Regions from separate parts of the Homo sapiens genome. Here region 1 is linked to region 2. Evidence: fine-mapped expression QTL. A gene starts in region 2. The other region holds a variant in brackets. All regions are shown on one strand. Distances are between the middles of the regions.

Region 1 (3,004 bases), 120 kb after region 2:
TGCCCAGCAAGCAGCCCAGGCCCAAGCTCCGGCCCATCCGCTGCCCCCACACCTCAGGCCAAGACTGTCAGGACGGGGACAGCCCACAGGCCATACATATGGGCAGAGCCATCCCAGCTAACTCAGCCACTTCCTCAACCAGGGGAGCTCTGGCTTCCAGGTCACAGGTGGTAGGAGGGAGCAGCCCCTCCACCTCCATCGTCTGGAAGCCCAAGGCTGTCACAGGCTCCTTCCCCTCCAGCCCCTCCCGGGCTCCACAGTCACCACCCCGTGCCCTCCACAGCCCACCTCTGCCCCCCAAGGGCCGTGGCAGCCTCCACGCTGGCCACTGAGCCGCACCCTGGACCTCTGAGCGACATCCGCCCTCCACAGCTGTTCTTTTCACCTTCCCTAGGAAAAGTGAAATCCTTTCCAGGATTTCCTCTCTCTCTGGTCACCCCCAAAACTAAATACCCAGTGACAGCCCAGCCAGTACTCATGGGGGCCTGGTGCAGGCCAGGGGCCTTCCCCACTCCTGCCTTCCCCGCTTGCAGGACGCAGGCTCTGCTCCAGCCCAGGAGAGCCTCCCAGCGCAGCTACCTCATCCTGCACCTAGGTACAACCACACCCCCAGCAAAGAATGACTGGCCTCCCTGGGCAAGGGAGAACCTGGCTTCAGGGAGGCCCAGGCCTTGGGCAGGGCAAGGCAGGGCAGGGCAGGGCAGGGCAGGGGTGAAGCAGGAGGGTGGGAGGAGCAGGGACATATCCGCCGCCAGGCTGCGGAAATGCTTCCTCATAAACGGCTAGAAAGGGAAGATGGAGTCAGGCAGCTTCAGCGAAGGCCTGGCCAGGGCAGCAGAGCCACAAGGGACACGGGCTTCTCTGGCCAAGCCTCACTCAGAAGGACTAACAGATGTGTGACTTGGGCAAATTCCTGCCATGCCACCAGGCAGGGAGGGGGACAGAGCCCGGCGGGCTGGACCTGGGGCAGGAGGAAGTGTGGTCATGTGAGTGGTATCCTGTCTCCCGGGCCAAGACGCCAGGCAGCGGCCAGACGTGTGTGTTGTGTGTTCAGGGAACCGTCTCCACTCTCCTCGCAGAGAGGAGTGGCCCAGGGACCACACACCCCACCCACGCCAGCAGCAGAGCACCCAGCCCCCTGCTCGCCCTCTGGCTGCCACAGGGCACAGGGGCCCATCCCATGCCCAATGCAGCTGCAGAGGCAAAGCCTCGGGGAGCCAGAGCCACTCTCCAGCATCCAAGGCACCACGGGCAGAGCGCAGGGACGTGTGTGCTGGGAGGGCCTGGCTGCAACCCAAGGGGTCGCCGCAGGATCCAAGAGTGCTCTGGTCCCAACTTAAAGGACTAAGGACCCCCCAACCTTGTCCAGAGAGGACCCAGCCTCCACCCTGCCTGGTGCAGCTGCCCAGAGGCAGAGAGCAGTGATTAAGTAACCAAGGACCCCACACCCCTACAGCCTCTGAGGGCCGAGCCCAAGATCCTTCCCAGCAGAGCACAGTCTGACCCCGCTCCAGGTTCTGCATAACTGGAGAGCACCTCCAGGTTAGCGGAAGCCATGGGCCTCCGCAGGGACACAGTTCCCACCTAGGGAAGGGGAAGTGGCAGGGCCAGTGCCCCCATACCGACAGCAACTGCGCCACCACCTCGGCGCCCCCCAGCCCTGGGATATCTGG[C/G]CCATCCCTCGCTGCCGCTGGTCTCTCACCTCTCCAAGTTCAGGGGTTTGGGCAGAGAAGAGCTAAGAGCTTCAGAGACACCTCACCAGACACCCCCACGTCCCAGGTGGGGAAACAAGCCCCGCTGTTCCTGGCAGGACCAGGACCGGAACCCGGCTCCTCCGGCAGGCTGGACACCGGGATGGCAGGGCATGGACAATGACACGCAGGCAGACCCTCTGCTCCTCCATGTTCTGAGTCCCCTCCATGTGCCTTCACACTCACACAGCTCTGCCAGCCCCCCAACCCGGTGCAGCTCCGGGAGAGAACTATGTCCCGAAGGCAGCCAGCGCCCCACCCTGCCCTCCCTCCACCTTCACTCCAAAGGCTAATGTTTCTGCTGGGTGGTGACCAACTGTGTCAAACTGACGTCCCAGTTAGGGTTTGTCACGGGGTCCCTGTGCAGGCAAGCAGCCACAACCTGCCCCCGAGGTCCCAGCCTCTTGTCCCCACCTCTAGGTTGCCCTTCCTTCCCAGGAAGTTGCCTGCTAAGGCTCTGAAATCACTCACTTCCCCGTGACTCCACTCTAGGCCTTACACACACACTTTTGAAATCAAGTCTAAGTCCAAACCAGGGTTTCTTAATTCCATCTCAGTGGCTTCAACTTCCTCCTCCGAGACACAGCTGAAAACCCTGTCCCGGCCAACTCTGCCCCTACTTTCTAAGCAATCTGAACACCCCCAGCTGCCAAGGGTTTATATTTAATTAATCCTTATTTAAATGTGAATCCTCAAAACCTCCACAAAACAAGCCTCTAGCTGCACCTCGGGGCCCTATAAAAACCAAAAAGCGTGTGCAGGTCCAATGCGAGGATATGAAAAAAATAACTCCTGCCTCAAAGAAACACGGGGTTTCCATCCTGGTCCAGCTCGTGGAAGAGCGTTTCAAGCCAACTTTGGATAAAGCAGCTCTTACGGCCGTCGCTTCTCCCACTGAGGTCTGTCCTGCTGGTGCACTTACTTCCAAATGCCCCTTCCGGGAAAATGAAACCTTCCACCACCTTCGACGATCAACTGCAGAGTAAACTTGCGGAAAGTGAAGGAAAAAGCAGACACCTGATTCCTTGCAAGTCCCAGAACAAAGACGAAAGGACCACGAGTCCCGTTGTTACCATTTCTACATCCCAATCACTTGGGGTGCAATGCCCCAAGATCTAGGAAAAGGAATCCACCCTTTTGCCCCCACAAAATGTGTTCAGAGCCAAGGGTGAGCGGACCCGCACTCTCCCACACCGCATTCGGGCAGCCTGTCTGTCCCTCCCATAAAGGGCTCTGGTCAAGATCCAAGTCAA
Region 2 (2,500 bases):
TAATGTAAAGTTTAAAAATGTACTACTGGGCCGGGCGCGGTGGTTCAAGCCTGTAATCCCAGCACTTTGGGAGGCTGAGCAGGGCGGATCACCTGAGGTTAGGAGCTCGGGACCAACCTGGCCAACATGGTGAAACCCCGTCTCTACTAAAAATACAAAAAAATTAGCCTGGCTTGGTGGCACGTGCACCTGTAATCTCAGCTACTCGAGAGGCTGAGGCAGGAGAATTGCTTAAACCTGGGGGGCAGAGATTGCAGCAAGCTGAGAGAGCACCACTGCACTCCAGCCTGAGGGGACAAGAGTGAAACTCTGTCTCAAAAACAAACAAAAAGCTTCTATCTGGGGGCCAGGCAGGATGGCTCATGCCAGGCAGGAGAATCGCTTGAACCTGGGAAGCGGAGGTTGCAGCAAGCTGAGATCGCACCACTGCACTCCAGCCTAGGCGACAGAGTGAGACTCCATCTCAAAAAAAAAAAAGTACTAACATTTCGGTAACTAGACCCTGGCATTTATTAATTTTTTGATATATCAGGAGCTTTCAAAACTGCAAGTGGCAGCCCGTTTTCTCCACCTAGGAGGGCCGATGCCCCCACGGGTCCCTCTAACTTTTGGGGTCAGTGAGCGGCGGGGCAAGAAGAGATCAATCAGGGAAATCAATACAACTGGGGAATGTGGCCCCTTCCCTTGGTCCCCAAAACGCAGGGCTTGAAGGAAGCCCTCATGGAGGAAGTGGGCCTCGGGGTCCCCGGGGCCAGCACCACGCGAGGCAAACAAGGGCTCCAGGACCACAGTCTAAACACCCCCAGGCTGCCCTTGCCCTAGCAAAACAGCAAAGCGAGCAGCCCACTCCACACCGGTCCCCACTCCAGGGTCTCGGGCCCTACGTCGCCGGAGCTCTGGGAGAGCCGCGAGGGGGCGCACCGTGGCCTCGCTGCCCTGTCCGCCACAGGTGGGGTGACCCCGCCCACTCGGGGGGCCCGCTTCCCTCTGGCCACGCCCATTCCAGCTGCCTGGCCCCGCCTCCTCCCCGCCCACCCCGGCCGGGCCCCGCTCACCAGGCCGCCTCAGGTGGGTACGCCACGCCCCTCCGGCCCTGCGGCCCCGCCCCCGTCTGCCCCGCCCGCCTCAGGTGGGGCCGCCCGGCCCGCCCAGCTTCCTCTGGCGGCGTCCGGCCGCTTCTCCTCTGCTCCTCGAAGAAGGCCAGGGCGGCGCTGCCGCAAGTTTTGACATTTTCGCAGCGGAGACGCGCGCGGGCACTCTCGGGCCGACGGCTGCGGCGGCGGCCGACCCTCCAGAGCCCCTTAGTCGCGCCCCGGCCCTCCCGCTGCCCGGAGTCCGGCGGCCACGAGGCCCAGCCGCGTCCTCCCGCGCTTGCTCGCCCGGCGGCCGCAGCCATGTCCCGGGGGCCCGAGGAGGTGAACCGGCTCACGGAGAGCACCTACCGGGTAAGCCCAGGGCCCGGGGCTCAGGGAGGTCAGGGCTTTCCACCTCGGGGTTCAGAAGGGGACTTTACGCGGGAAGGTACTTTCCCTCCCTCCAGCTCCCCTCCCCCGCGTCCTTCCACCTCTCCCGGTCTCTCCCACTCCTCCCCTGGCCCTCCACAGCCCCTCTTCTTCCTCCCCTGGCCCTCTCCTTCCTCCCAGTCCCTCCCCATCCCCTCCCCCCTACTTTTCCTCCTCCTTCCCTCCCCTCCTCCCTGTGCTTCTTCCCTGTCTCTCTTTCCCGCCCCGCTGTACCTCTCCCTCTGCCCCTCCGCTCCCCGTTCACTCTCCCTCCTCCCCTGCCCCTCGACACTGTCCCTCCCCTCCTCCTGGTTCTTCCTTCTCCCCCGTGTGTCTCCCCCTCCTCCCCTGTCCCTTCTTCTCCCCAGTCTATCCCCCTCCCTCCCCCTCCCCCTCCCCCTCCTCTTGGTTCTTCCTCCTTCCCCGTGTGTCTCCCCCTCCTCTCCTGGCCCTTCTCCGCCTCCCCTGTCCCTTCTCCTCCCCGTCCCTTCTCCTCTTCCCTGACCCTCAGAGCTCTGGAGACCACCCCCCATCCCCTGACCAGCTACACATTTTACAACTAGTGCACTTAAGTTGGGGAGGGGTCTGTTGTGCGTCGGTGGGGCCCACGTCCTCCTCCCAACTTCTTGGAATCAGTGACCCGTGCTGTCCTGGCTGCCGGGCTTAAGCCCTCCGGGACCAAAGACACAAGCTCGAGTTTCCTCTAAGAAAAGAAAGCGCCCAAGAATGTGGGGGTGAAACTCCCCTGTAATTAGGATCGCCAGGTGAGCCGAGCTCTGGGCGTTCTCCCGGGAAACGCCCTCCTCCTTAGACCCTTCCTCTCCCACCTTTCAGTTGAACTTGGCTTTTATATATGGGTTATTTGGTGAGGTTCTTGAAGTCAAAGAACAACCGAGGTTTTAATGAAATTGACCTAACCTTAAGGAATGCGTTGATAGCCGGTCTCTTAACTTGCATGTATTAGGAGAGAATTTTTCCAGACACAGACAGAGACTTAG

The links. PIP is the estimated chance that this variant, and not a neighbour inherited with it, causes the effect.
Region 1: its variant is fine-mapped to the expression of BAIAP2L1 in whole blood (TOPMed, PIP above 0.99).

Annotation. Positions count from the first base shown.
Region 1 is chr7:98,282,554-98,285,557 of GRCh38, reverse strand. All of the region lies in intron 2 of BRI3 (brain protein I3), which reads right to left. Among named protein-coding and RNA genes, the nearest start is that of BRI3, 2.4 kb to the right of the region's middle. The variant C/G (reference allele first, on the strand shown) is at 1,674.
Region 2 is chr7:98,399,747-98,402,246 of GRCh38, reverse strand. It overlaps BAIAP2L1 (BAR/IMD domain containing adaptor protein 2 like 1), which reads left to right and starts at 1,157. Exons shown (of 14, transcript NM_018842.5): 1 at 1,157-1,445. The coding sequence starts at 1,395. RefSeq lists a silencer at 824-1,483.